Linked DNA regions of Homo sapiens: region 1 is linked to region 2. Evidence: fine-mapped expression QTL. A gene starts in region 2. The other region holds a variant in brackets. All regions are shown on one strand. Distances are between the middles of the regions.

Region 1 (15,696 bases), 30 kb after region 2:
ATCCTCTTCCTCCTCCTGCCCTCCTGGCTCCCAGGGTTCCTGGTCCAGCCTTGCAGACTCCACCTCCATCGTTGCCAGCTCAGCCACATGGGTGGGGCTGGGGGCTGCGCCTTCTGCAGTTAGAAAGGGAGGACTCGGACCAGACTGGCCCTTCCTTTCCCAGGCCCTCTGCCCAACCCCAAGACTTCTTTTGTCCATCAGGGTATCAGCCTGTCCCCAGTAGAGGGGACCAATGCCAGAGCAATCCAGAAGTCGTCTGTGGATCAAAAACTAGCCATGAGCTATTTGATCGATAGGGTTCATGTGCTTCTGTAAAAACAGCCTTACCTTCCTAATTATGTCTTTAGGTACACACTCTAGTTTGTAAGCTCTGGGTCACTGGTCCTATTTCCCTCTTGACTCCAGTTGACCTAGAAATCCAAAAATCCCCTCCAGAAAGTTTCCCTGAAGGATGCTAGGCCACCACCACCAGGCTGAGGGTAGAAATGCTCCAAGACTTGGAATAATCTTAGAATAGGAGACTTAGAGAATCTCAGGGGTTTTCTGAAGCCTTGCAGTTTCAGCTGAGGCCCCCAAATGTAAAGACAGTGAGTGACAGGTGTCCTCACATTTCCCAGGTAAAGGCTCATTATATCCCCCTGGACTGGCTAAAAGGGGGTCGGACATCCTACCTGCAGCTTACACACGAGGCGACTGGAAATCTGGTGCACCTTTGGTGAAAAGGCCTCTGAGGGGAAGGTGCGGGGGCAGGAAGCATCATGATACCCTATCATCCTGGAGAGGGAAAAAGTGGGTGCCTCTCTAACCCCATCCCTGTGAGTTCCATGAGAGCCCTGAGAAGTCCGGGCCTCCTGCAGGAGGGAGAAGGCACCTCCTGGCTGGGCCTACAGCCCTCCATGTATTGCTCAGGGAGCAGAGAGCAGAAGAGTACCTGGGACACCTGCACACTCGAGTTAAGGAGTTTGCTGTGAAGAAGGGAGACACAGGTGCCCACTCCTTGCCTCGAGAATTCTGGTGGTGAGAGGCTTGTTGGAGGTGCCCACCATGGCAGGGTAGGGAAATAAGGCAGTGTCTGAGCACACTGCAGTTCCAGGCTTTGGGGACTTTTCCCATGGGCTGAGTGAATGTCTCATTGGAGCTGTCTGTGAAGGGTCTTGAAAAGATCCTGGCTGGACACAGTCACTCATGCCTATGATCCAGCACTTTGGGAGGCTGAGGTGGGAGGACTACTTGAGTCCAGGAGCTTGAGACCAGCCTGGGCAACATAGTGAGATCTCATCTCTACAAAAAATCAAAAACTTAGCTGGGCATGATGGTGCATGCCTGTGGTCCTGTCCCAGCTATTTGGGAGGCTGAGGTGGGAGGATCGCTTAAGCCTAGGAGTTGGAGGCTGCAGTGAGCCGTGATCGCACCACTGCCCTCTAGCCTGGTGACAGAGCCAGACTCTGTCTCAAAAAATAAATAAAAAAAAATAAAAAAATTAAAAAGGAGAGGAAAAAAAATAGAAAAGCTCCTGCCCAGGCAGCTAGCTGCCCAGCAGGGACTCAGCTGGCACAAGGACAGAGCACTTGGATGCCTGCCACCCAGAGGCCAGGCATAACAGCCCTGTGACACCAACATTGCCTTTCCCTCCCATTCCTTCTTCCCACTCCCCAACCCTGGAGAGGCAGGAGCAGGAACGGGAGGAGGCAGAACAAGAAAAGTGAAAGAGGCAGGGCATTTTGGCTCACGCCCGTAATCTCAGCACTCTGGGAGGCGGAGGCAGGTGGATCACTTGAGTGTCAGGAGTTTGAGACCAGCCTGACCAAAATGGTGCGACCCTGTCTCTACTCAAAATACAAAAATTAGCCAGGCGTGGTGGCGCGCGCCTGTAGTCCCAGCCACTCAGGAGGCTGAGGCAGGAGAATCGCTTGAATCCGGGAGGCGGAGGTGGGAGTGAGCTGAGATCGCGCCACTGCACTCCAGCCTCGGCAATCCAGAGCAAGACTCGATCTCAAAAAAAAAAACGGGCCAAGCGCGGTGGCTCACATCCGTAATCCCAGCACTTTCAGAGGCTGAGGCGGGCGCACCACCTGAGGTCGGGAGTTTGAGACCAGCCTGACCAACATGGAAAAATCCCATCTCGACTAAAAATACAAAATTAGCAGGCACCGTGGTGCGCGCCTGTAGTCGCAGCTACTCAGGAGGCTGAGGCAGGAGAATCGCTTGGACCTGGGAGGTTGCAGTGAGCAGAGATTGCGCCACTGTACTCCAGACTGGGCGACAAAGTGAGACTCTGTCTCAAAAAAAGAAAAAGAATAACAGACATGGACTCTTGCTATATTGCCCAGGCTGGTCTTGAATTCCTGGGCTCAAGCAATCTTCCTGCCTCAGCCTCCCAAAGTGTCGAGATTACAGGTGTGAGCCAATGTGCCAGGCGTTGGCAAATTTTAGAATGAAAAACTCCAGTGTCTCAGAGCTTGGGACTGTCGAGTCCCAGGATCTCACAGCAAGAAGGTGCCCAGGACCCTGACCTCCATTGGGGGGGCCCTTCTACCTCCAGCATCCCCAAATGCCAGTGGCTCCAGGCCCCCAGAGGGATTTCCCTTTGCAGCTGCCCTTTGAGCTGAGAACTCACTCCCATTGACCAGCAGGCCTCTTGCCTTCAGGATCTGCAGCCAGACCCTGGCCAGTCAGGAAATCCCACCAAGAGCTTGCAGGGAAGGAACTAAAATGTCCCAGAGCAGTGTGACCCGGCTCTTTCCAAAGCCTTCTCAGTGAGATGGCCCCAACATGGGAAGTGCCTCCTTTCCTTCCTCGTGGCTATTTGTTGCACAGGTGCATCCAGCACACCACACCACGTGCCCTGGCACAGGGCTTCTAATTCTCATTGAAGCTGCTATTGGCCCACAGGGCAGCACTGCTGAGGAGACGTCTCTCCCTGATCTGCGCAGGCACTGAGCAGGCTAGTGGGGCTCTGCCCTCCTCCCTGTCCCAAGGACGTCCTGCCCTGGCTCCTTCCCGGCTGTCCCAGCTCATTACCTTCCTTGGAGAAGGGGTCGAAGAGGGCAAGCTCAGCCTCGGTGAGGGGGCCTCGGGCAGGGGAACCAGATGCCTCCTCGGTGCTCTCACAGTTAAAGAGGAGATCCAGGGCCTCCTGGGCAGGGCTGGATGGTGGGGGGTCCACTGAGGAAGAGATAAGTGGGGTCATGAATACCTGCGTTTATTTCTCAGCTTTCAAAATAGAATTACTCTCTCCTTAAACCCTTGCAGCAACCATGGGCATAGACAAGCCTGTTATTAGGGTTTGTGCTCATTTTACAGATCAAGAAACTGTAGCACAGAGAAGGAAAAGGACCTGCCCAAAGTTCCTCAGCCAGTTAAGTGATAGACCTGGGACACACACACATTTCTCAGTAAGATCACTGAGGAGGGAGTGTGGCCGCCCTCCCCACTCTGCACCCTCCAGCCCTGGTTCCCTCCTCCCACCCCGATGTACCTGGCACCTCCAATTCCTCGAGGCCCCTCCTTTCTGCAGGGAGCAGTTGGGATAGCCGGGGGTCATCAGGGGGCGGGGTGGGGATCAGAGGGGGTGGCAGGATGTGTAGGTCCCTGGACACCTCCAAGGGTCGGGTCACCTCCCCACCCTGCAGGACAGAAAGATCAGACATGGGGAGTCATGGGGTGCAATCTGGTGGGTGGGTAAGTGGCCCAAGTTCTGGGAAGGTGGAAGGTGCACATACCCGGAAGAACTCCTTGAGCTGGGGGCTGTTGTTGAGCGCAGGTATGTGCACAGTGAAGCGAAGCAGGTCCTCTGCCCCCTTTCGCCGCTCCTCGATCACTGAGGCTTCAAACCGGCCTACGGCCCCCAGGACAAGGAACAGGGGAGAGTGGCGGTGACCCACAGGGGCTTCTGCCCCAAGGCCACTTTTCCTGGTCCTGCCTGAGATGCTCTGAGCAACTCACTGCCCTCCTACCCATTCTCCCAGCAATCTGCCCTGGTTCCTCCTGGGGTGAGGTAGGGGCTTCCAGGAGGGATCAATTTCCCTATTCATTCATTTGCCAGATGTTTACTGAGCACCTACTATATGCTAGACTCAGAAGGTGAACAGGGGAGGAACCAGTCTCTGCCCTTGTGAATATCATATCCTACCCAGGGGGAGCTAGGCAGTTAACAAGAAACAAAAGCATTTCTGATGGCTTTGATCTAATGAGAAAAGTAAGGCTCAGAGAGGGAAAGTGACTTGCCCAAGGTCACAAAGCAAGGAGCCCCCGTTTATTTTTTGAGAAAAGGACTGGCTGTGTTACCCAGGCTGGTGTGCAGTGGCACGATCTCAGCTCACTGCAACCTCTGCCTCCTGGGATCAAGCCGCCCTCCCGCCTCAGCCTCCCAAGTAGCTGGGACTATAGGTGCACACAATCATGCCTGGCTAATTTTTGTATTTTTTGTAGAGATGGGGTTTTACCATGTTGCCCAGGCTGGTCTTGAACTCCTGAGCTCAAGTGATTACCTTGCCTTGGCTTCCCAAAGCACTGAGATTACAGGTGCGAGCCACAGTTTCACTGCTCTGTCCTAGGTATTTTGCAGAGCAGGCTAACTCTGGTCCAGTTACTGTGCGGCCAGTCTGTGGTACTTCCCCACTGGCCTGGCATAACCTGACAGCAGCAATCCTTTACCTTGCTTCAAAAGAACATCTCGGCCAGGTGCGGTGGCTCACACCTATAATCCCAGCGTTTTAGGAGGCCGAGGCAGGTGGATCACTTGAGGTTAGGAGTTCGAGACCAGCCTGGCCAACATGGTGAAACCCTGTCTCTACTAAAAATAAAAAAAAATTAGGTGTGGTGGCGCACACTACTTGGGTGGCTACTTGGCTATTTGGGAGGCTGAGGCAGGAGAATCGCTCAAACCTGGGAGGCAGAGTTTGCAGTGAGCTGATATCATGCCACTGGACTCCAGCCTGGGTGACAGAGTGAGACTCTGTCTCAAAAAACAAAAACAAAAACCAATAACAAAAAAGAACATCTCACATGAGTATGCAGACCCAAGCAACTGGTCAGCACTGTCTAATACAGATATGAGCTACATATGCAATTTTAAATTTTCTAGCAGCTAGATTAAATAATAGGAAAAAAGAAACAATTTTTTTTTTTTTTTTTTTTTTGAGACGGAGTCTCACTCTGTCGCCTGGGCTGGAGTGCAATGGCACACTCTTGGCTCACTGCAACCTCTGCCTCCCAGGTTCAAGCGATTCTCCTTCCTCAGCTTCCTGAGTAGCTGAGATTACAAGCACTTGCCACTACACTCAGCTAATTATTTGTATTTTTAGTAGGGACGGGGTTTCACCACGTTGGCCAGGCTGGTCTCAAACTCCTGATCTCGTGATTCGCTTGCCTCGGCCTCCCAAAGTGCTGGGATTACAGGTGTGAGCCATCACACCTAGCCACAAGTTAATTTTAATATTTTATTTAACCCAATATATCCCAAATATTCTCATTGCAACATGTAATCAATATACTAAGTATTGAGATGGGCCGGGTGCAGTGTCTCACGCCTGTAATCCCAGCACTTTGGGAAGCCAAGGCGGGCAGGTCAGCTGAGGTCAGGAGTTCAAGACCAGCCTGGCCAATATGATGAAACTCTGTCTCTACTAAAAATACAAAAATTAGCCAGGCGTGGTGGTGCACACCTGTTATCCCAGCTACTGGGGAGACTGATGCAAGAGAATCCCTTGAACCTGGAAGGTGGAGGTTGCAGTGAGCCAAGACAGCGCCACTGTACTCCAGCCTGGGTGACAAAGTGAGGCTGTCAACAACAACAAAAAAGAAAAAGGAAAATAAAATGGAGCTGATAAAGACAGGATTTTTTTTCCTTTGAGATGGAGTTTTGCCTTGGCCTCCCAAAGTGCTAGGATTACAGGCGTGAGCCACACGCCTGGCCCAACAGGAATGTTAAAAGGTGAAATACACAGTAAGGGTTAGGCTACTCTGAGCCTCAGTTTCCCCATCTGTCAAATGAGGTCATCTCTAAGGGCCCTTCCAAACATGACTCTGCCCAGGGTTTCAGGCCCTCTCTATCCAGCCCCCACTGGCGGAGGTCCCCTTTTGCCCAATGCTCCCTCCATCTTTGGCCCGAGTGCCCCAATCTAACACTCACCAAACACCTGGGCCCGGGGGAAAGC[A/G]GGGAACTCCTCGAGGCGGCGGAAGAGGTTGCGGTGGGTGTAGGCCAGGTCTCCATGCAGCTTGCGGAAGTCGCTGTACCGCTTCCAGACCACCACCTATGAGGTACATGAGACTTGCCCAGAACCAGCAATGGTGGGAGGCAGCCGCCCCCATGCCTAGCCTGCCCCCAGGGGGCGTGAGGATCAGGAAGCAGCTGCAGCAGCCCCTCGCCCAGGGACAGGGAGGAAGGAGGGCCGATGTCCAAGCAGAGTTACCAGCTGCCCCTTGACAGTTTCCAGATCTGGAACTGCAGAACAGTCCCTCTTCCTCCCAGGAGCCTCACCTCTTTGACATCCTCTGGGTCCTTCTTTGAGATGAACTGAGAAAGAAAGGCAAGAGCTGGTTGAGACCAGAGACTGCCATCTGACACCCTCTCACCCTGTAATGCCCCAGGTGCCTCCTAGTCCCCCTCACGGGGCAGTAGCCTTTGGCCATTGGCCTCTGGCATCAAGGCACCCTGGCTTTAAGCCTTCGCGTGTAATTTTAGCAACTTTTCCTACTATGTACCTCAGTTTCTCCATCTATCAAATAGGAGGACCCCTAAAGGCCCATTTGGACTGCTCCAACCTCAGCCCAACTTTTTTTTTTTTGAGATGGAGTCTCGCTCTGTCGCCCAGGCTGGAGTGCAGTGGTACACTCTCGGCTCACTGCCACCTCTGCCTTCAGGGTTCAAGCGATTTTCCTACCTCAGCCTCCCAAGAAGCTACAGACATGCACCACCACGCTTGCTAATGTTTGTATTTTTAGTAGAGATGGGGTTTCCCCATGTTGGCCAAGCTGGTCTGGAACTCATGACCTCAAGTGATCCGCCCGCCTCAGCCTCCCAAAGTGCTGGGATTACAGGCGTGAGCACCCGGCCATCAGCCCAATTTTTATCCCAGTTCCTTGAACAGACCAAGTCCCTCCATCTACTTCTGAAACCAAAGAACCCCAAGCCTCCAAAGAAGGGAGGTTCTGCCTCAGGAACCTCCTTCCCTGCGGGAGAAGATCCTGCGCTTCAGCGCCCTGGACACAGAAGAAACCATCACTGGAGTTGAAGTCCCTGGAAGGGCAGACTTGGGTCTGAGGTGAAAACAAGATTCAGTTTTCATCGTTATGTTCATAATAATTTTAAAATAATGTCCTATGGTTTGGGGTACTTGACAGTTTAATAACATCTCCTATGCCAGGCACGGTGGCTCACACCTGTAATGCCAGCACTTTAGGGGGCCCAGGTGGGCAGAGCACTTAAGTCCAGGAGTTTGAGGCCAGCCTGGGCAACATAGTGACACCCAGTATCTGCAAAAAATACAAAAAATTAGCTGGGTGTGGTGGCGTGACACACCTGTAGTCCCAGCTACTTAGAAGGCTGAGGTGGGAGGATCACTTGAGCATGTTAAGCAGAGGTTGCAGTGAGCTGAGATTGCACCACTGCACTCCAGCCTGGAGAGAGTGAGACCCTGTCTCTCACACACTAAATAAATAAATAAAAACATCTATTTCTTATCCTAGATCCCACTGAGGCAGACATAATTGACATGCCCACTTAAGAGATGAGGAAATGGAGGCTCTGAGAGGTGTGGCCATAGTAGACCACACACTAAGTAAGAAAGATGGCTGGGACTAAAACCCTGGACTTTGCTTTTGACAACAGAGACTTGCCTAAAATATTCTGGTAAAAGAAACTATTTAAAAGCCATTGAGTGGCCAGGTGTGGTGTCTCATGCCTGTAATCCCAGCACTTTGGGAGGCCGAGGTGGGAGAATCACTTGAGGTCAGGAGTTCGAGACCAGCCTGGCCAACCAACATGGTGAAATCCTGTCTCTACTAAAAATACAAAAATTAGCCAGGCGTGGTGGCAAGTGCCTGTAGTCCCAGCTACTCAGGAGGCTGAGGCAGGAGAATCACTTGAACCCAGGAGGCAGAGGTTGCAGTGAGCTGAGATCATGCCACTGCACTCCAGCCTGGCAACACAGTGAGACTCCATCTCAAAAAAAAAAAAAAAATTATAGGCCAGGTACGGTGGGTCATGGTGGCCTGTAATCCTAACACTTTGGAAGGCCAAAATGGGAGGATTGCTTGAGGCCAGGAGTTTGAGACCAGCCTGGGCAACATGGCAAAACTCTGTCTCTACAAAAAAAAAAATTTTTTTTTGAGATGGAGTCTCACTCTGTCACCAGGCTGGAGTGCAGTGGTGTGATCTCGGCTCACTGCAACCTCTGCCTCCCGGGTTCAAGCAATTCTCCTGCCTCAGCCTCCCGAGTAGCTGGGACTACAGGTGAGCGCCACCATGCCCAGCTACGTTTTGTACTTTTAGTAGAGACGGGGTTTCACCATGTTGGCCAGAATGGTCTCGATCTCTTGACCTCATGATCCACCCGCCTTGGCCTCCCAAAGTGCTGGGATTACAGGCGTGCGCCACCACGCCCAGCCTCTACAAAAAATTTAAAAATTGAGCTAGGCGTAGTGGTACATGCTTGTAGTCCCAGCTACTCAGGAGGCTGAGGCAAGAGGATGGATTGAATGCAGGAACTTGAGGCTGCAGTAAGACGTGAATCATGCCACTGCACACCAGCGTGGGTGACAGAGCAAGACCCCGTCGCAAATAAAATAAAATAAAATAAAAATATAGGCCAGGCGCGGTGGTTCACACCTGTAATTCCAGCACTTGGGAAGGCCGAGGTGGGAGGATAACTTGAGGTCAGGAGTTCGAGACCAGCCTGGCCAACACAGTGAAATCCCGTCTCTACTAAAAACACAAAAAGTAGCCGGGTGTGGTGGCACACGCCTATAATCCCAGCTACTCAGGAGGCTGAAGCAGGAGAACTGCATGAACCCAGGAGGTGGAGGCTACAGTGAGCTGAGATCACACCACTGTACTCCAGCCTGGGCGACAGAGCAAGACTCCGTCTCAAAAAATATATACATACATATATTTATATATTATGTGCTTTATATTTTATATTTATTATATATAATACATTGTATTATATAATATGTATAAAAATATATCAAAGTAATGCATGTTGCTTGGTTTAAAAAGCCAATGGGAGGCCGGGTGTGGTGGCTCACACCTGTAATCCCAGCACTTTGGGAGGCCAAGGCGGGTGGATCATGAGGTCAAGAGATCGAGACCATTCTGGCCAACATGGTGAAACCCCATCTCTGCCAAAAAATACGAATATTAGCTGGGCATGGTGACGCGTGCCTGTAGTCCCAGCTACCTGGGAGGTTGAGGTGGGAGAATCTGAACCCGGGCGACGGAAGTTTGCAGTGAGCTGAGATCGAGTCACTTCACTCCAGTCTGGGCGACAGTGAGACTCTGTCTCAAAAACAAAACAAAACAACGACACAAAAAAGCCACTGGGAAGACTTATTTTTATTTATTTATTTATTTATTTATTTATTTATATTTTTGAGACGGAGTCTCGCTCTGTCTCCCAGGCTGGAGTGCAGTGGCACAATCTCGGCTCACTGCAAGCTCCACCTCCCGGGTTCACTCCATTCTTCTACCTCAGCCTCCCGAGTACCTGGGACTACAGGTGCACGCTGCCACGCCCGTAAGTTTTTGTATTTTTAGTAGAGATGGGGTTTCACCATGGTAGCCAGGATGGTCTCGATCTCCTGACCTCGTGATCCGCCCGCCTCGGCCTCCCAAAGTGCTGGGATTACAGGCGTGAGCCACCGCGCCCGGCCACCACTGGGAAGACTTATAATAAAAGGTTACAGTTCCTTGCCACATCCTCCCCACCCCAGCCCCACCTCCAGTCTATCTTCCCAGGGACAATCTATTTATTTGCTTTTTTTTTTTTTTTTTTTAAAGTTGTGTGTGTGTCTGTATTTTAATATTGATCCGGGGTCTCACTATGTTGCCCAGGCTCGTCTTGAGCTCCTGAGCTCAAGCAATCTGCTGCCTCAGCCTCCCAAAGTGCTGGGATTTACAGGCATGAGCCACTGAGCCCGGCCTTATTTGCATTATTTTTAGGCATGGAAAAGACGTAAACGGTTTGGGGAAAGCATATTTTAAATAGCTAAGATTCTGCACTTAGATCACTTTGGAAGTGTCCTTATGTGCCTGCTTTGCTTTTAGAGTTAACTAATGCACCAGCTTAATAGTCGCCTGGTTGAAAATTCTAAAAGTACAAAAAATTTACAGTAAAAAGTCTTCCCCTAACTCCTGTCCCCAGTGACACAGTTCCTCTCCCTGGGGACCTTCCTTGTTACCAGTTCTTGTTATCATTCTACAGGTGTCCTGTTTTACTGTTTCATTTTTAATTATTGTCATGGTTTCCTCCATGTCTCTCTATAAATTGTGCTTATGATGTTGTTATCGCTTCATATATCAACTCTAGCCTATCTATCTTCCTGCTGTGACCTTGATATGGCGACTTACTCCTTAAGTCCTTCTGAACTGCATCAATTTTTTTCAACCACTGATCAGTATTATTTTTTGAAAAATTAAAAATGGTTAAACTCGTTAAAGGGAGTTTATGTAACATCAAACAAACCAATAAACAAAACTTACTCTACGAGAATGGAGTACTAATATTTGGATTAAACCAGAGTTTTCATGTTAATTTAGAGAAATTCACAGCCTGATGCCCAGACACTACACTCCGGGCGTGGGCATACACGCCTTGCCTGTCCGGGAACGGCCGTCAACGCCCTTTTAAAAAAGACAGCGCCCACCCAGGACCCCGCCCCCTGGTGGTTAAAGATGTAAACTAAGCCTCGTACTGCAACCTCCCCTTAAAGGGGAAACCCATTTCTGTCGTCTAAAAAGGGAGCAGTGGCTGCACCGCCTTTCCTTAAGGTAAAACTCGGCGCCCCTCTAGTTAAAAGGGTAAAGTACGCGCTGGGCCCCACCTCACCTGCGCGGTTACTTTGTACTCGGTGTAGCCCTTGGGGTGAGTCCTGGGGTCCGACACTGTGTAGTGCCGCAGGAAGTCATCCTTCGCCTGGCGGGACATGAAACCGAGCTGGAGCGGAGCGGAGCGCCGGCCTCCACCTCCTCGCCGTCCCCACCCCTCCGGCCCAGCCTCCGCCCGCCGCCGCCTCGCCAGGCCTGCGCTCTTCTTCCTCTGGCCTAGGGATTTTGTCGCAAGTGACAGCGCTGTTCCGATCCCGGGTGCGCGGCCAAGGGAGCGTCTGAAAAGTTCCTTCTCTGTGGTGAAGCGTAAACCCAGGTCACTGGAAAGATTGGTTGGGAAGGCTGGGATCACTCGTCTCATTTCTGCCGGGTGATCAAGCCCACCCTATCCAAGCGTAAACCCTTGTCACAGACTTCCAAACGACTTCTCCCCGCTTCCTAAATCCCTGCTTTCGTTCATCCACCCAACTCTTATTGTGTCCAGTATGTACAGGACAACGTCAAATTATTTCCCTGTCTCCCTCCACAGGATTCCCTAATTCATGTTTTCTGGAAAGTAGAGGAAGCAAAGAAGGTTGGAGAAGCAGGATGGTGTCATGGGCTCTGAGTCACGACTCTTACTAGCTGTAGGAGTTTCCCTTAACTACTCAGCCTCAGTTTCTCATCTGTAGAATGGAGATGTTTATAATAGAATCTGTGTAGGGCAGTGGAGCTTTTTTGCGATGGGTTTGCTGCCAGAACACAGGTGTCGTGAAAACCACCGTTAAATCAAAGCCAAAATGGGGGTTTGGCGCGGTGGTTCACGCCTGTAATCCCAGCATTTTGGGCAGTGGAGGCAGGTGGATCACTTGAGGTCAGGAGTTCAAGACCAGCCTGGCCAACATGGTGAAACCCCGTTTCTACTAAAAATACAAAAATTAGCTGGGCGTGGTGGCGCACGCCTGTAATTCCAGCTACTCCAGGGGCTGAGCTGGCTGATGGCTTCAGCCCAGGAGGTTGAGGCTGCAGTGAGCTGCAATCACACCACTGCACTCCAGCCTGGGCAACAGAGTGAGACTCCATCTCAAAAGAAAGGGAGCAGGGGAGGGAAAAGACTCAGCTCAACATCATCATCTGATTTGGGCAAGTCCAGCACTACTGGCCATCTGATCTACAAGTGTGGTGGGATCCACAAAAGAACCATCGACAATTTTGAGGAAGCTGCTGAGATGGGAAAGGGCTCCTTCAAGCATACCTGGGTCTTGGGTAAGCTGAAAGTTGAACGTGAGAGTGGTATCACCACTGATACCTCCCTGCTGGCAATTGAGACCAGCAAGTACTATGTGACCATCCTCAATGGCCCAGGATGCAGAGACTTTATCAAAAACCTGACCTCAGGCTAATTGTGCTGTCCTGATTGTTGCTGCTGGTGTTGATGAATTTGAAGCTGGTAATTCCAAGAATGGGCAGACGCGTGAGCACACCCTTCTGTCTTACACGCTGGGTGTGAAACTAATTGTTGGTGTTAACAAAATGGATCCCAATGAGCCACCCTAAAGAGGAGAGATGGGGGCCGGGCGTGGTGGCTCACGCCTGTAATCCCAGCAGTTTGGGAGGCAGAGGTGGGTGGATTAGGAAGTCAGGAGTTCAAGACCAGCCTGACCAAGATGGTGAAACCCCGTCTCTACTAAAAATACAAAAATTAGCTGGGCATGGTGGCGGGTGCCTGTAATCCCAGCTACTTGGGAGGCTGAGGCAGAGAATTGCCTGAAACCAGGAGGCAGAGGTTGCAGTGAGCTGAGATCGTGCCACTGCACTCCAGCCTGGGAGACAGAGGACAGAGTGAGACTCCGTCTCAAAAAAAAAAAAAAAAAAAAAAGGAGAGATGGGAGAAATCATTAAGGAAATCAGCACCTACATTAAGAAATTGGCTACAACTCTGACATAGTAGTATTTGTGCCAATATCTGGTTGGAGTGGTCACAACAGGCGGGAGCCAAGAGCTCACATGCCTTGGCTCAAGGGATGGAAAGTCACCTGTAAAGATGGCGATGCTGTGGAACCACGCTGCTCGGAAGCTCTAGATCACATCCTACCACCAACTCACAAGCTCTTGGTTCTGCCCCTCCAGACGTCCACAAAATTGGTGGTATTGGTACTGTCAGTGTGGGCCACGTGGAGACTGGTGTTCCCAAACCTGGCATGGGTTTTGAGACCTTTGCTCCAGTCAGTGTTAGAATTGAAGCAAAAATCTGTTGAAATGCAGCATGAAGTTGGTAGGCTTACATACAACACATAGTATTTACTGCAGAGGAAGCATTGTGAATAGCCACTCTTGTTCCTGGAATTCAGGTGTACAGGTGCGGTGCCTTGGTCTTCAGAAAGAAGCAAAGCCTGGCATGGGGCTCATGCCTGTAATCCCAGCACTTTGGGAAGCCAAGGCGGGAGGATCACTTGAGGCCAGGAGTTCAAGACCAGCCTGGGCAACAGGCTGCCTCTGATTTCATGAGAAATTTAAAAATTAGCTGGGGGCCAGGTGCAGTGGCTCATGCCTGTAATCCCAGCACTTTGGGAGGCCAAGTCGGGCGGATTACTTGATATCAGGAGTTCAAGACCAGCCTGGCCAACATGATGAAACCCCATCTCTACTAAAAATACAAAAATTAGCCAGGTGTGGTGTCGGGTGCCTATAATCCCAGCTACTCGGGAGAATGGGGCAGGAGAGTTGCTTGAACCCGGCAGGCAGAGATTGCACTTAACCTTCTGGAGGAAATGTCATCCAGGAGCCAGTCAATGCCAGGCAGTGGGTTCTCCCCAGCAGTGGGGCTGCAGCCCTTGACGTACCAGTGGTGGCTGCAGAGAGTCCAGATGCAGGGCTTGGGAGAACAAAGGTGCTGGTGGTGGCCAGTGACCGCAGACCCTTCCCTCCCTGCTCAAGGGTCAGCCCATCCAGGAAGCCTCCCCGGCCCCTGGGAGAGCTTATCTGTTCCCCGGGGCACCTGAGCTCTCTGTACAGTGCCACGCCAGTGCCACCCCTTAGTGTCCCATATAAGAGAGGATCCTGATAGGCGGCACTGCATAGGGCTGTCCCTAACTGTATTGCTGAATGGAATGGGTAGTACTTAGAACAGTGTAGGGAAAAGAGAGATCAGACTGTTACTGTATCTATGTAGAAAGGGAAGATAGAAGAAATTTCATCTTGACCTGTACCCTGAACAATTGCTTTGCCCTGAGATGCTGTTAATCTGTAACTTTGCCCCAGCCACTTTGCCCCAACCCCTTTGCCCCAACCTTGAGCTCACAAAAACATGTGTTGTATGGAATGAAGGTGTTTTTTTTTTTTTTTTTTGAGATGGAGTCTCGCTCTGTCGCCCAGGCTGGAGTGCAGTGGCGCCATCTCGGCTCACTGCAAGCTCCGCCTCCTGGGTTCATGCCATTCTCCTGCCTCAGCCTCCCGAGTAGCTGGGACTATAGGCGCCCACCACCACACCTGGCTAATTTTTTGTATTTTTAGTAGAGACGGGGTTTCACCGTGTTAGCCAGGATGGTCTCAATCTCCTGACCTCATGATTCGCCTGCCTCGGCCTCCCAAAGTGCTGAGATTACAGGCGTGAGCCACCACGCCCGGCCTTGGAATCAAGGTTTAAGGTCTAGGGCTGTGCAGGACGTGCCTTGTTAACAAAATGTTTACAGGCAGTATGCTTGGTAAAAGTCATCGCCATTCTCTAGTCTCAATAAACCAGGGGCACAATGCACTGTGGAAAGCTGCAGGGACCTCTGTCCTGGAAAGCCGGATATTGTCCAAGGTTTCTCCCCATGTGAGAGTCTGAAATATGGCCTCGTGGGATGAGAAAGACCTGACCGTCCCCCAGCCCGATACCCATAAAGGGTCTGTGCTGACGTGGGTTAGTAAAAGAGGAAAGCCTCTTGCACTTGAGATAGAGGAAGGCCACTATCTCCTGCCTGCACCTGGGAACTGAATGTCTCGGTATAAAACCAGATTGTACATTTGTTCAATTCTGAGATAGGAGAAAAACCGCCCTATGGTGGGAGGCAAGACATGTTGGCAGCAATGCTGCCTTGTTATTCTTTATTCCACTGAGATGTTTGGGCAGAGAGAAACATAAATCTGGCCTACGTGCACATCCAGGCATAGTACCTCCCCTTGAACTTAATTATGACACAGATTCTTTTGCTCACGTTTTTTTGCTGACCTTCTCCCTATTATCACCCTGCTCTCCTACCACATTCTTCTTGCTGAGATAGTGAAAGTAATAATCAATAAAAACTGAAGAAACTAAGAGACCGGTCCCAGTGTGGGTCCTTGGTATGCTGAGCGCCGGTCCCCTGGGCCCACTTTTCTTTCTCTATACTTTGTGTCCTATTTCTTTTCTCAGTCTCTCGTCCCACCTGACGAGATATACCCACAGGTGTGGAGGGACAGGCCACCCCTTCACACAGAACCCTGCAGAGTAAGCAGCTGCTAGGACCCTGTGCCATGAAAACATCTGCCAGTTTTGCCACTTGGATTGGACCCCTGGGGTGGCCTCATTTCCTATCCTTTCCCAACCTGGCACTGCTTCTGAGTTCCTGTAGCCTTCAGGGAAGGCCTCAGTTACCCCTGCCTGATGTGGCCCCCCTCCCACCCTCTGGCTGCACTCTCTCCTACAC
Region 2 (15,696 bases):
CAAGGGCCCTCAGGCTTCCGAGGAGCGGAACTTGGAGGTGATGGGAAACCCCAGGGCCTCCTAAGGCAGTGGGCAGGGGAGGCAGGAGAGCTGGAGAAATTCTTCCTGTATCTGAATGGAGGCCTGAACCCCCGTCGTCACACCCAGCTTCCAGCTGTCAGGGCGTCCAGGCCCAGCTCCTGGGTTCAGGGCTGAGGAATGGGTGCAGGGGAGTTCAGCGCTGGAGGGCCTCCTGGACAGGTCCCATTCATACCTCCTACCAGGCTTTCCCTACAGGGTGGGGGATACAGACGATGGGGCCCCTGAAAGACAGGGAGATGGCAAGGATGGGGGGTGTGGGAGGACCCAGGCTCTTGGGTGAGCAGCCGTGACCCTCTCCAGTCACCTTGGCGCTTTCTCTGCAAAGCCACCTTCCTCAGAACAACTGGAACCCACCGTCACGTTCCTGTTTACACTCCTGAACACCTCTGAGCCCACTGAGCCAAAAGACCCTGAATCGTAAGGCTGCATGAGAGAGAGAGAGAGAGAGAGAGTGCCCATGCAGGCACATGCAGGCACGCACAAAACTGGGGGAGGTGGATGGTGTTTCTCCCCACCCCACACCCAGAAACATTCAAACCTGGGCTAGGACTCAGTCCTGGCCCGTGCAGAGAGGAGGCCCAGAGAGGCCTGCTGAAGCCGGGGCCTTTGGCTGGGCACCCCCACACCACCCACCCACTTCCCTCATCCCCTAGACCCTCTGGCCTGACCTTCACTACCCACTTGCTCCAGGGACTCGGAGATCCAGGAGTACCAGTTCTTAGATCAGGAGGACTGGGGCCCCCAGCGGACCTCAAAGGAGATCAGGCAGTTGCAGAATGACTGCATGAGGTGATCTGGGCGGGCAGATGGGAGCGGGTAGGGTGACAGGGCTTCCCCCGACCAAGGCCAGGCCTGGCTTTCAGGTCAGGGCCCACGTGGCTGGTGAACGGGCATTCAGGAACCCCCACCTTTAATTGTCCAAGAACTTGAGGAGCGTTCAGTCTGGGGGAGGGGCTTGTTCTCTGGATGTCGGGCTCTGGAGCTGGGGTCCACACAATCCCATGGCCGCTCGCCCCTCTCAGGTAATGCTGGGGTCAGAGCCCCATCTGTCAGCAAAGGTCCTGAGGTGGGGGCAGGGCATGACGGAGGCTTCCAGGCCATAGACCTGAGTGATCAGCTCTCCCATTCATACACAGCTGACCTGGAGCGCCTAGGCAGGGCTGGTTCCAGCATTGGCCCTGTCACTGGCCTGGAGCCACAGAGAATCCTGTTGCAACCCTGCCTACAGCCCAAAGGAGCGGCTAGCCCTATACCACCCACCCCTTCCAAGGGGAGCCTCAGAGGGTTTCTAGCCCACCCACAGAAGCAGCCTGCCCTGCTCTTGCAAAGGAAGACAAAAAGCATAATTAGTCTCTCTCTCGGTCCCCTGCTACCAATCACTCAGGGAGAACAATTCCCATCCCACCTGTGGTTTTGCCGGGACAGGAAGACTGGGCTCTTACTGAAACACTGGTCCCAGGTGGCTATAGGACCAGGTGGCTGAAGCAGGAGGTGGGAGGGGTGGGGAGTGCTGCCTGGAACAAAAGCCTGGCTGAGGTGGGAGGGGTCTGTTTTTCAACCCTAGGCTTCGGGAGTCACTGAACACCACCCAAGTGCACAACCTGGCCCTGGGGGAGAAGCTGCAGAACCTGGTAAGACCCTGAGCCAGGACCCCATTTCTTTGTCTTGCCTCCTCCCTGCCTCCCAGCCCAGCTCTCCTAGAGGGGCTTCGGGTTGTCCTGCATGGCTGGCTACCCACCTCGAGCCCTGCAACCCTTTGTCCAGCCCACCTTATTGTATAAGAGCCTGAAGGAGGGAGCCCAGGCCATCCAGGAGGAGGCCCAGGCCATCCAGGATGAAGTGAAGGCCCTGCAGGAGGAAAGCCAGGCCCTGCCGGAGGTGGCTCTGCTCAGGTGTGCGGGCAGCCATGGCAGCGGGGAGGGAAGAGGCGGCTGCCCCATGCTGCTCACTCGAGCTGTCTCTGCCTGCAGTGACCCAAACCCCCGGAAGGCAGGTCTCCTCTTCAAGCTGCCTGACCTGCCCCACGACCACAGAGACCAGGGTCAGGCCTGGCCAGGCCCCAGGCCAGAGGTCGGACACCTCCTCGGGAGGCCGCTCCTTCAGCCAGCTCCTCCCTAGATCCCAGAAATAAACTTGGAAGCTAAGCTTCAGCTTCACCAAGTGTCTGTGGGCCCTGGGCTCAGGTGGGGAGCAGGAGGTCACCACGTCCACACTGAGCTCAGCCCCTCAGCCACCCTCTGACATCACCCCCACTCCCTCAGCTCACCCATTCTGCATCTACCCCTCCCCGACATGGCCCTGCCCTCCCCCGACCCCTCACAGAAGGTTCCAGGCCTGGTTGTTGTCAGCCTGGAGATGAGAGCTCAAGGGCGATGTTCCCAAGATAAGCACTGGGGTGAGGCCAGAAAGGGGCCGCAGTCCCTCCCCGGAGGATCTGGGTACCTGCTCTAACTCCAAAGTGCAGAAGGATACTGGGGTGTAGGCGGGGGAGGGATAGGGGAAGAGCCACTAACCATCTGGTGACCTTGGAAAAGTCCCTTCCCCTTTGTAAGTCATGGGGTTGGGGGGCAGAGAGAGGTGGTGGCAACTCCCCAAGGGCCCGCATCCTATACCCCTCAGGCCTGGAGATACATATCGATTTTGAGTTTCACCTCCAACCCAGGAGCCCTCTGGCCCAGGGCCTCCTGGGAGCCCCCAACCCCCCTCCACCAATGGGGTTGCAAAAAAGAATACAAAAAACTGACACGTATATAGTCAAGGGGGAGAAAGCAAGGAATCCTGATAGAAGATTGCTAAATTACATACAAAATTGGTTAATATTCTAAAGGGCATTTATTTTTAAAATCCCATAACCCGGGCTGGTCACAGTGGCTCACACCTGTAATCCCAGCACTTTGGGAGCCCGAGGTGGGCAGATCACCTGAGGTCAGGAGTTTGAGACCAGTGTGGCCAACATGGGAAAACCTGGTCTCTACTAAAAATACAAAAAGTAGCCAGGTGTGGTGGCACGTGCCTGTAATCCCAGCTACTTGGGAGGCTGAGGCACGAGAATCACTTGAATCTGGGAGGCTGAGGTTTCAGCGCACCAAGGTGGCACCACTGTACTCCAGCCTGGACGACAGAGCAAGACACTATCTCAAAAAAAAATTTTTTTTTTAATTTAAAATAAAATAAAAAGTCCCATAACTCTAAGGCTTGTATTATTCACTGGGCAGAAATCATTTTGCATCTTAATCAGTTTTCTGTAAAGTAACCTCTAACTTTACAGCATCTAGGTCTAATGGATGGTAAAAGATCCACCATGCAGAATTCCTTCGTTAATCCTCGTGTGACACGGAACGGGCTGGGGATGATCATTTTGCCTTATGTTCACTGTAGGGAGACAACAGCCAAGAGGATGGAAATTCAGGTTTGTGGCTTCTCCCCAGGCCTGGTTTGACTTACACCAGACTCCTAGGGATCAGGCCTGGGCAAAGTAACTGATGAAGTGCTTGATTAGTGACTATTTGATTCTGCCCCAGCTTCAGGCTGAATTGAGCTGAGCTAACATCTCTTTTCTTCATATTTTTACATTTTATTTTTATAAATAGAGACAGGGTCTTGCTATATTACTCAGGCTGGTCTCAAACTCCTGGGCTCAAAGAATCCTCCCGCCTCAGCCTGCCAACATGCTGGGATTACAGGCATTAGCTACCGCTCCCAGACTAACATCTCTGACTTAGCAGCCCACCCCTTCTGAGACTCTACCCTCCTCACCCGATGGCTGTAGGGATCCCAGACCTCCCCAACCACCTACTTCCTGACCTGTCCTTGACCAGGGGCCCTGCTGTACAAACAGCTGTCTTGCAATTTTCCCAAAGGGAATCATAGGGTACTGAGGTTGATGGTAGTTGGATCAACAGCTAAATCAATTACCCATTTAAGGACTTCTGTCAATAAGATGCAGTCATCAGCATGGTCCCATTTGATGTTTCCTTTAAAAGGACACAGAGAGAGACTAATTATGCTTTTTTTTTTTTTTTTTTTGCGACAGAGTCTTGTTCTGTCGCCCACGCTACAGTGCAGTGGCGCAATCTCAGCTCACTGCAACCTCTGCCTCCTGGCTTCATGCCATTCTCCTGCCTCAGCCTCCCGAGTAGCTGGGACTACAGGCACCCGCCACCATGCCTGGCTAGTTTTTTATATTTTTAGTAGAGACGGGGTTTCACCGTGTTAGCCAGGGTGGTCTCGATCTCCTGACCTTGTGATACACCTGCCTCGGCCTCCCAAAGTGCTGGGATTACAGGTGTGAGCCACTGCACCCGGCTAATTATGCTTTTATTTAATTATGTCTCAGCCTGGGACAGCGCTCGAATAAGGTTACATGAATACTGCTTGGCTGCAGGAAATGGAGTCTATTACGGAGCCCCCTCCCCAACCAGCTCCAAACCACAGAAGTGCTTATAGATTCGAATGCATCCTGGCCATGGTTCTGCAGCTCAGGGATCCTTCACTGGCTGTCCTGAGGTCAGTCCCTGCAGCCACTCCTGTTGACACTGCATCCAAGCAGTCCCAGCCCAGCCCAGAGGTTCCTGTCAAGGAAGGTCCCACAGCAAAGCTGCGTGGGCCCCAGGGTGTTACCTGGTCCTTTCATTCACACACATTTCTCCCAGTCAAAGGAGGCTACCATGTGAGTCACAAGCTGTGCCCACACCTCCTGGGCCTCTGTCATCAAGGCACTGGGCTTGGGTTAGCAAATCAGCCTCCTCTGTCTGGCTGGCACCATTTCTCTAGTGAGGGGCAGAATGGGATGCCTCTCTCCTGCCTAGTGATGGCAGGTGGGATAGCTTCGTGAATGTGCAGGCGCTGCATTCTACTCTCAGCTCCACCCCTTGCTGTCTGGTGTGACCTTGACTGAGTGCCTGGACACACATCTTCATCTGTAACATGGGGTTCCACTGTGTCCACCTCGGAGGATGAATGATTTTGTGTGGACTTGGTGCATTCCATGTGTTGGCGACTGTTATCTGATCTCCAGTGGATCTACCCTGGCCCCCAAACTGGCTTTGCAGGCCCAGTGGGAGCAGCTCTGAGTACCAGTGTTCCCAGCAGGCTCCCTTCCCCACTAAAGGGCCTGGTATTCCTGCCCAAGAGGGTGGCCAGACCCTGCAGCCTGGCAGGGCCTTCCTCCATCCTGCAACGTCATCCTTTGGGAACACCCAGCACTGAAAGTCTGTTAGATCCCATCCCCATCTTGTGAGGGCACCTGCGCCTGTTACGCAGGTGTCCTATGCATGGCTGCCTTGGCAGTCTGGTGGGGCTTACCCAGAGGGGATCTGCTTCCCAGGGGTCTCGTGCCCACCTTTTACATCTCTTATTGCTCTGAACACCCCTTGGACAGAAGACAGCTGGAGCAGGAGTGTTGAGTTGCTGTGCTGGCGTAGGTCAGCTTTGCCTCCAATCTACAAATACTTGTTGAGTGCCTCATAGGTGCCGGGCACTGCTCTGGACTCTGGGGCTTCGGCAGTGAATAAAACAAAGATGTCTGCCCTGGTAGAACTTACGCTCTGGGAGGGGCAGCAAGAAATAATGAACAAGTAACATGAGGATAGATGCAATGGAGAAAAATGAAGCCACAGAGGAAGAGGAAGCCTGAGGGAGGGGGAGGAATGCAATTTTATTTTATTTATGTATTTTTAAACATGGATTCTCACTATGTTGCCCAGGCTGGTCTTGAACTTCTGGACTCAAGCGATCTTCCTGCCTCAGCCTCCCAAAGTGTTGGGATTATAGGTATGAGCCACTGCACCCAGCCAGGAATGCAATTTCAGATAGAGTAGTCAGGGAAGAGCTCATTGAGAAGTGACATTTGAGCAAAGACACAAAGGACCTGAGGGAAGGAGCCCTGTGGACAGCTGGGGAGCAGGGTTCTAGGGAGCGGGAGCTGCCAACACAAAGGCACTGAGTCAGGAGTGTGCCTGGTAGGCTCAGGGGACAGTAGCAGGCCAGAGCTACAGGAGCCGTGAGTGAGGAGGACAGGGAGGGGACCGGGTCTGAGACATGAAGGGCTCTATGGCCACTGTCATGACTGTTACTCTGAGTGTAAAGGGAGACTTGGAGGGCTGTGAGCACGGTCGTGACATGGCGGACCTGGGTTTCACAAAGATGAGTCTGACTGCTATGTAGAGAAAAAAACTAGAGGGGACAAGAATACAATCAGAGAGGCCAGTTAAGAGGCCACTGCAGGCTGGGCACGGTGGCTCTCGCCTGTAATCCCAGCACTTTGGGAGGCCAAGGCGGGCGGATCACCTGAGGTTGGGAGTTTGAGACCAGCCTGACCAACATGGAGAAACCCTATCTTTACTAAAAACACAAAATTAGCTGGGCATGGTGGCGCATGCCTGTGATCCCGGCTACTCAGGAGGCTGAGGCAGGAGAATCACTTGAACCTGGGAGGCAGAGGTTGCGGTGAGCCGAGATCGCGCCATTGCACTCCAGCCTGGGCAACAAAAGCGAAACTCTGTCTCAAAAAAAAAAAAAAAAAAAAAAATTAGGCAGCTGGAAATACAAGAGTTCGGGGATGGGTTAGATTGGAGACATATACTTGCGGGTTTCTGGTCTATATTTAGTCATTTGTATTGGTTCTCCATTTTGCTGTGGTTTTTTTTGTTTTTTTTTTTTTTTTTTCTTGAGACGGAGTCTCACTCTGTCACCCAGGCTGGAGTGCAGTGGCGCTATCTCGGCTCACTGCAAGCTCTGCCTCCCAGGTTCACGCCATTCTCCTGCCTCAGCCTCCAGAGTAGCTGGGACTACAGGTGCCCGCCACCACGCCCGGCTAATTTTTTTGTATTTTGAGTAGAGACGGGCTTTCACCATGTTAGCCAGGATGGTCTTGATCTCCTCACCTCATGATCCGCACGTCTCCGCCTCCCAAAGTGCTGGGATTATAGGCGTGAGCCACCGCGCCTGGCCTATTTTGCTCGGTTATAATCACTCCAAAACCTAGTAGCCCAAAACCATAAACATGTATTATCTCACACAGTGTCCACAGGTTAAGAATCTGAAAGTGGCTTGGTTGGGTGGTACTGGCTGAGGGACTCTCGTGAGGCTGCAGTCAAGATTCCAGCAGGGGCCGCTGTATTCTGACGGCTTGGCTGGTGCTGGAGGACCCATTTCCAAGTTGGTTTATTCACAGGGCTGGCAAGTTAGTGCTGAATGTTGGCAGGAGGCTTTAGCGCCTCACCATGAGGCCTGTCCACAGGGCTGCTTGAGTGTCTTCACAACATGGTGTCCGGGAGGCCACGTGACTCTGCAGGCACATCCAGGGGCAAGGGTGCAGGCGCAGAAGAAGCAGAAAGTGAGTCAGAAGTAACCAGAATGGTGTTTTCCCAGTGGATGTGACCAAAGCAGAGAGGATTGGGGGTTAAGAGGGCTTCCAGGGCCTCAAACTGGGCAAGGTGAGTACACGTGGGAGGTGAAGGAGGGTGGGACGGAGGCAAGTGTGTGGGGCAGGTGGAGAGTGGGGAGGGAGCCAGCAGCAGTGCATTGCTGGTCCTGGAGGATTGAAGACCCCTTGGACCCAGAGCCATTGGGAGAATAAGGCAGGAAAATGAAAGGTGTTCATGTGCTCTAACTACCGTAAGTTATTTCTAGGAACTCCCACAATCCAGAATGTTCTGGGAGGGGCCATACCACCCACACAGCAAAGATGAAGGAAAGAAAATTGACTAAGTTAACGTCTGGTGCCTACAGCCATGTAGACACCAGTGGATTCCAACAGCCTGAGTGGATCTCTTGGGTGTCACACACACAGCTGTTTACACACTCTCCAACACAAACCACAGTCCCAGGTGTTATCACTCAGATGTCACACACTTTTGTCCAGGCGTCCTGTTTGTGACTTCACATGATTGAGGGGTTAAATCCTTCCAGGAGTGGGTGGGGTAGGACCATGGGGTTGCTGCCTCAGTCCCTCAACTTATCAGCTGACCTTGGCATCCCACTCCCCACCTGGTGGTGACTGTCCTGTGTCCTCATAAGGAAGGTGTATGCTCCCTGCACCGATGGGCTTCTGATAAGATCCAAGGTCATATTCTGGGCGTCGATAATCACGTTGCCAAGAACTGTGGCTTCCTGGTGCACCTCCCTGAAGTCACTGATCACATGACATCCCTTCCCAGCCACCCCTAGTCCTCCCATGCTGAACCTCCTCACCAGCAGCACAAGAGATGGTGGTGCCAGCAAAATGGGGTTGTGAGCAGGAAGGAGGCTGCTCTGAGAGGGGTCTGTGAAATCACACACACACACATGCACGTGCACACACACACACACACACACACACGCTCTGCCCTGATCCAGCCCCCAAGCTCTGCAGGCATCTTTGAGCCCATCCATGGGCTGCAACCTGCGAGGCAGAGTCAAGGCAGGATAGGCCATGGGAGGGTGGGAGAAGTCCCAGCTCAAGTCCCTAGGGACCCCCCCAGCCCCTCCTGGCTCTCCGTGAGGTCTGGAAGAGGCTCAGTATGTGTATGGCATACTTGGGGTCTCACTTCCCTCTCAGCCCTTGCAAATGCTGGAACACCTTTTCAGCCTTGGAGGACCCCCTCAGATGTTCCCTCCTAGTCAGAACTCCTCACTCTTTCACTGGGAGCATGGTGATCCTCCCTCTACAGGGCACTTACCACATGGCTGAACCTAAAGCCTGTCTGCCTCGCCTGCTGGATTTTGCTTCCCCACAGCCTTGCATGGCTCTAGTATAGCACAGAATGAACAGTGCTTGCATGTATAAAGGAAGGAATGAATAAGTGAATGGAGGGATGGGTGGATGGATAAATAGGAGGGTGGATGACGGAGTCCAGGCAGAGCCAGGGGATAGAAGAGGAAGTCACCTCGCCAGGGAGGCATGGGCTTCCCCTGCTGCCTCCTCTGGGACAGCCTCCCTTCCCAGGACTCCCATTCCTCGTATCGCTGGGCTCCCTTCAGGATAGACACAGAGAGTTCTTCTGGGTCCTCCTTCTTCCTTTAGCTCTAGGCCTTACATTTTCCAGAGTCAGATGAGGGATGAGTAGTTAAAATTGATGAGCTCCCACTACATGTCAGACACTGCACTAGCTATTTCTACAGATGCCATATTGTTTAATGAAAATGACACCATAGCCGGCACGGTGGCTCACTCCTGTCATCCCAGCACTTTGGGAGGCTGAGGCGGGTGATCACCTGAGATCAGGAGTTTGAGACCAGCCTGGCCAACATGGTGAAACCCCATCTCTACTAAAAATACAAAAATTAGCTGGACATGGTGGTGCACACCCGTAATCCCAGCTACTCGGGAGGCCGATGCAGGAGAATCACTTGAGCCCGGGAGGTGGAGGTTGCAGTGAGCCGAGATCACACCACTGGACTCCAGCCTGGGTGTCAGTGGAAGACACAGTCTAGAAAAAAAAAAAAGAAAACAGGTGTAGAGAAGCTGAGTGGATTGCCCAAGGTCACACAGCTTACGTCCAGCAAGAAGGGGGATCTCAACTCAAAATCTGCTCAGGCAGGTAGGGCTGGGTATGCTGTAGATCGGCTGCCTTGGAGGGAGGCAGAGGCAGTGAGGGTGGGCAGTGGGCACGGCCCTGCTGTGAACACAGGAGCTCTGAGTTCCAGCCCTGGCTTGGCCTCTGTTTTCCTGGGACACCCTGGATGAGCCCCTTCCCTCTCGGCTTCAGTGTCCCTGGGTGACCTTGCTGCCCTTGGAGAGCCATTCCAGGCAAATGGTGCAGGATGTGGTGGATGTGGATGGCTCCTGGCTCTCACTGCGGGATGTTCCCTCACTCTCCCTGCCAGCTGGGGGTCAAAGGGCAGTGCCACCCATGGGGTAATGTTTAACCAGGCACAACACCCCCTCTATAGGGAATAACCTATAGACCAGTCCTACCCCAGCTGGCCAAGAGTCCGCAGGATGCAGTGGACGAAGGTGTTGGGGCTGGGGCTGGGGGCTGCTGCCCTCTTGGGGCTGGGGATCATCCTCGGCCACTTTGCCATCCCCAAAAAAGCCAACTCACTGGCCCCCCAGGACCTGGACCTGGAGATCCTGGAGACCGTCATGGGGCAGCTGGATGCCCACAGGATCCGGGAGAACCTCAGGTGAGAAGTGGGGCCATCTGCTCCTCCGTTTGCCAGAGGCCCCCTCCCTGATGCTGGCCCTGCCCCTCCCTCTGCCCACCCTGCAGAGAACTCTCCAGGGAGCCACACCTGGCCTCCAGCCCTCGGGATGAGGACCTGGTGCAGCTGCTGCTGCAGCGCTGGAAGGACCCAGAGTCAGGCCTGGACTCGGCCGAGGCCTCCACGTACGAAGTGCTGCTGTCCTTCCCTAGCCAGGAGCAGCCCAACGTCGTGGACATCGGTGAGGTCCTGCCCAGTCTTGGGAATGCCCGGGGGTGGGGAGCTGCTGGGCCCAGCCATGATACTGCCACCCCTCCAACAGTGGGCCCCACTGGGGGCATCATCCACTCCTGCCACCGGACTGAGGAGAACGTGACCGGGGAGCAAGGGGGGCCAGATGTGGTACAACCCTATGCTGCCTATGCTCCTTCTGGAACCCCACAGGTGGGCCCAGAACCCCCCCTACTGCTCTGGCCCAGCTCCCTTGGTTCCACCCAGGGTTCTCCCCACCCTGACCCAGGGAACGTGCCTCAACTGGGGCACAGCGCGCCCTCCGGAATTTACTCACCGGGACACTCCATCGCTGCTCCTTTCCTCCATCAGTCATTCAACAAACACTAGTGGCTCTGCTCAAGGCCAGGTCTGTTACAGGGCACCCAGACATGGAGGAAATGAGGGGTGACTGTTCTTGGGGAGCTTACAAGCTCTGGGTGAGGTGGGGGAACAGAATCTAAATTCTCCCTCCTGCCATGCAAACTTCCACCCCCCTTCCCCACCCACACTTCGCTGGGCCCAGCTCTAAGGATCACCCCCTCTTGGGACTAGGGCCTCCTCGTCTATGCCAACCGGGGCGCGGAAGAAGACTTTAAGGAGCTACAGACTCAGGGCATCAAACTTGAAGGCACCATTGCCCTGACTCGATATGGGGGTGTAGGGCGTGGGGCCAAGGTGAGTGGCAGTCCCCCAGTGCAGGAGGCCTCGGTGAGGAAGGGGCTGGGCAGTGGACTGGAGGAAGTGAGGGGAAGGGGAAGGAGAAGAGGCAGTGTTGAGTGGGGAACCAAGCCCCAGGGTGGGGCAGGAAAGGCAAGGTGTTTTCGGGTTGTCCCACCAATGGGCTGTGTGGCCTCGGATGCCTCCCTGACCCTCTCTGAGCTGTAGGAAATAAAGGGGTTGAGTACAATTTTCAGGTTTGGTATTCCAGAAGTCTAAGTCCTCCTGTGAAATAGTTTTGAATATTCAACTTAAGTCCCTCCTGTTGGCCCTCTCCCTGCCATTTCTTTTCCATCAAAAATTCTGACTAGGGGCCGGGCGCTGTGGCTCACGCCTATAATCCCAGCACTTTGGGAGGCCGAAGTGGGCAGATCACCTGAGGTCAGGAGATCAAGGCCAGCCTGGCCAACATGGTGAAACTCCATCTCTACTCAAAATACAAAATTAGCCACACATGGTGGTGCATGCCTGTAATCCCAGCTACTGGGGAGGCTCAGGCAGATGAACTGCTTGAACCTGGGAGGCAGAGATGGTAGTGAGCTGAGATTGCACCACTGCACTCTCCAGCCTGGGAGACATCGAGACTCTGATTTAAAAAAAAAAAAAAAAAAAAAAAGGCTGGGCATGGGCGTGGTGGCTCACGCTTGTAATCCTAGCACTTTGCGGGGCCAAGGCAGGCGGATTGCCTGAGTTCAGGAGTTCAAGACCAGCCTGGGCAACACGGTGAAACCCCATCTCTACTAAAATACAAAAAAACAAAAATTAGCTGGGTGTGGCAGCGTGCACCTGTAGTCCTAGCTACTCAGGAGGCTGAGGCAGGAGAATTGCTTGAACCCAGGAGGTGGAGGTTGCAGTGAGCCAAGATTGTGCCACTGCACTCCAGCCTGGGTGACAGAGCGAGACTCCATCTCTAAAAACAAAAAACAAACAAACAAACAAAATTAATATAAAAAGAGTAGAATGAGAGAGGGGAAGGGATAGTTGGTATTTAATGGGGACCGAGTTTCGGATTTGTCAGATGAAGAGTTCTAGAGATGAATGGTGGTGATGTTGCACAATATGGATGTACTGAATGCCACTGAACTGCATACTCCACATGCTAAGTTTATGTTATGTGTATTTTACCACAATTTTTTTAAAAGTGGGCTGGACGCGGTGGCTCATGCCTGTAATCCCAGCACTTTCGGAGGCCAAGGCAGGTGGATTACCTGAGGTCAGGAGTTCGAGACCAGCCTGGCCAACATGGTGAAACCCTGTCTCTACTAAAAATACAAAAAATAGCCGCTCATGGTGGCAGGCACCTGTAATCCCAGCTACTCAGAGGTTGAGGCAGCAGAATCACTTGAACCCAGGAGGCAGAGGTTGCAGTGAGCCGAGATCATGCCATTGCACTCCAGCCTGGGGGACAAGAGCAAGACCTCATCTCAAAAAAAAAAAAAAAAAGGTGTCCATAATAAGAGCTGGGAAAAGAGAAAGAAAGAAGGAAGGTGGAGAGAAAGGAAGGAAGAAAAGAAAGGGAAAAAAGGAAAAGAAAAAGAAAGGGGAACAAGCAGTGTAGAAATACACAGATTATTAATTAACCATCACCACTACCCATTTCCAGAACCTTTTCATCATTTCAAACAGAAACTTTATTTAACAATAACTCCCCAGGTCCCTGCCCCAGCCCCTATTCTATTTTCTGTAACCTCAATTCTACTTTCTGTCTCTATGAATTTGCCTATTCTAGGTACCTCGCATAAGTGAAAGTATAAGATATTTGTCTTTTTATGTCTGGCTTATTTCACTTAACATAACATCTTCAAGGCTCATTGATGTATCAGAACTTTCTTTCTTTTTAGGCTGAATAATATTCCATTGTTTTTTGTTTGTTTGTTTGTTGGGGTTTTTTTGAGACAGAGTCTTGCTCTGTCACCTAGGCTGGAGTGCAGTGGCATGATCTCAGCTCACTGCAACCTCCACCTCCCAGGTTCAGGCGATTCTCGTGCCTCAGCCTCCCAAATAGCTGGGACTACAGGTGTGTACCACCACACCTGGCTAATTTCTGTATTTTTAGTAGAGACAAGGTTTCACCATGTTGGCCAGGCTGGTCTTGACCTCAGGTGATCTACCTGCTGGTCTTGACCTCAGGTGATCCCACCTCAGGTGATCTGCCTGCCTCAGCCTCCCAAAGTGTTGGGATTACAGGCGTGAGCCACCCCACCCGGCCTCCATTGTATGTTACAGCCCACATTTGGTTTAGCCATTCATCTGTTGATGGACACTTGGGCTATTTCCTCCTTTTGGCCGTTGAGGATAATGCTGCTGTGGACATGAGTACACAACTGTGTTATTTTATGCAGCTTCATGGTATTCCACTGTAGGATGTCCCTGTTATTCAACCAGACTCCACTGATAGGCACGGGCTTGGCTGTGCCGAACTGGCCTTTACTGTTGCAAGAGGCACTGCCATAAATGACTTGTGCAAACGTCATCTTGCCCATGGAAGATTGGTCTATCCTGGCTTCCACAGTCGAGGAAGGAGGAAGAGGAATAGGACATATCTGGTCCCGGTCCCTCCCTTACACACAGCCTCCTCTGCCCACTGCAGGCTGTGAACGCTGCCAAGCACGGGGTAGCTGGGGTGCTGGTGTACACAGACCCTGCCGACATCAACGATGGGCTGAGCTCACCCGACGAAACCTTTCCCAACTCCTGGTACCTGCCCCCCTCAGGAGTGGAGCGAGGCTCCTACTACGAGTATTTTGGGGACCCTCTGACTCCCTACCTTCCAGCCGTCCCCTCTTCCTTCCGCGTGGACCTTGCCAATGTCTCCGGATTTCCCCCAATTCCTACACAGCCCATTGGCTTCCAGGATGCAAGAGACCTGCTCTGGTGAGTTTGTGCCCTGGGGTGTCCTGCCCAGCCCCAGTGGCCTCCAGACTTCAAGCCCCACACTCACATTTACCCTGAAGGGCCTCTTCCTCCTCCCCAGTAACCTCAACGGAACTTTGGCCCCAGCCACCTGGCAGGGAGCACTGGGCTGCCACTACAGGTTGGGTCCCGGCTTCCGGCCTGACGGAGACTTCCCAGCAGACAGGTGAGATGCAGCCAGACCAGGTCTCCCTCAGTTGCCCTCTCCCCCAACTCGCCTCTCCCCTTCCCTTGTGATGATGTTCCCTCTTTCCACTTCAAAGCCTGACCTTTTTCCCTTTCCTCTCTCTCCCAGACCCTCTCCTGACCCCAAAATATGTCTTGTTTTTGGGGAAGCCCGTGAAACAGCTGCTGCTGTTTCCTGTGGGGATTCCCCTGCCCCTCCCACCTCATCTTGACGTCTGTAACTCACGACTCCCTCTCTTGAAGATGCCAAGCTCCTTCCCAAATCAGGGCCCCTGCCACTCCCAACCTGCACCAACCTCCCTCCCTACAGCACCCACTGGCCTCCAGGTGCCCTCTCCTCCCAGGCCCCTTCACCCAGCTGTTCCTGTCCTCCTGGTCTGTCTCACTCAGGAGAGGGAGGCCCCACGAGAACCAGGTCCACATCTGTCACCGTCATTGCCCAGAGACTAGTCAGGGACTAAGTACCCAATAAGTACCTACCCAGCGAGTAGGCAGGAGAGCCTGGCTCCAGCCTTGCTGCCTCTCTTGGTACTTCGGGGCCAATGAATGGCCTTGCCACGTCACTTTCCAGCTCCGGGCCTCAGTGTCTCCTGCACTGGGTCGGGGGCAGTGGGCAAGGCCAAGAGTCTTCTCACACCCTTCACCCTCCCCAGCCAGGTGAATGTGAGCGTCTACAACCGCCTGGAGCTGAGGAACTCTTCCAACGTCCTGGGCATCATCCGTGGGGCTGTGGAGCCTGGTGAGCCCTCCTCTTGCTGCCTGCACCCCAGGCCCCTGCTCTGCTCTGGATGCCGCTGTCCTCATCCAGCCCTGCCCTTGCCACCACCCAGCCCAGCTCCCCCTGCCCACCTCTCCCTCTCCTCTGGTTCTCTGCCCCTTTTCCTCTGGCCAGATCGCTACGTGCTGTATGGGAACCACCGAGACAGCTGGGTGCACGGGGCTGTGGACCCCAGCAGTGGCACCGCCGTCCTCCTGGAGCTCTCCCGTGTCCTGGGGACCCTGCTGAAGAAGGGTGAGGCGGCCCCCTCCCCTGGACCAGGGACCTTCGCCCCCGGAGGTCCCCTTCCTGTTCCACCTCCTCTCCCTCACACTGCAGTGCTCCTTGTGCCATGCCTGAGGGCCCTGGGGGCAGACATGCATGACACCAGCCTTGGCCTGCAGCAGCCCAGTGTGGTACAGGGAATAGACTGTGGGTTGATTCATGTGCCGCTTCCAAGTGCCTCCCGTGTGCCTGGATGGAGCAAGGCCCGATGCTGCTGTGAAGCAGGCAGCGCCCAGGCTCTGCCCTCCGGGAACTTTAGCTCAGCTGGGTCAGGGACGGCAGCCGATTGTTAACTCTGATGTCTCTAATGTCTTGTGTGCCTTTGACATGGCAGGCCAGGTTGGGACAAGTCTCTCAGT

Evidence for each region.
Region 1: its variant is fine-mapped to the expression of NAALADL1 in whole blood (TOPMed, PIP above 0.99).

Annotation. Positions count from the first base shown.
Region 1 is chr11:65,022,989-65,038,684 of GRCh38, reverse strand. SNX15 (sorting nexin 15) reads right to left here and starts at 11,246. Exons shown (of 8, transcript NM_013306.5): 1 at 11,049-11,246; 2 at 6,482-6,517; 3 at 6,134-6,254; 4 at 3,723-3,838; 5 at 3,479-3,626; 6 at 3,022-3,165; 7 at 1-113. The coding sequence starts at 11,147. It overlaps ARL2-SNX15 (ARL2-SNX15 readthrough (NMD candidate)), which reads right to left. Exons shown (of 11, transcript NR_037650.2): 4 at 11,049-11,367; 5 at 6,482-6,517; 6 at 6,134-6,254; 7 at 3,723-3,838; 8 at 3,479-3,626; 9 at 3,022-3,165; 10 at 1-113. It also overlaps the pseudogene EEF1A1P18. RefSeq lists a silencer at 11,115-11,284 and an enhancer at 11,134-11,428. The variant A/G (reference allele first, on the strand shown) is at 6,159.
Region 2 is chr11:65,052,829-65,068,524 of GRCh38, reverse strand. NAALADL1 (N-acetylated alpha-linked acidic dipeptidase like 1) reads left to right here and starts at 9,972. Exons shown (of 18, transcript NM_005468.3): 1 at 9,972-10,188; 2 at 10,275-10,447; 3 at 10,529-10,650; 4 at 11,032-11,154; 5 at 13,787-14,070; 6 at 14,171-14,275; 7 at 14,949-15,034; 8 at 15,188-15,307. The coding sequence starts at 10,004. It also overlaps a transcript of CDCA5 not described here. RefSeq lists a silencer at 1,474-1,768.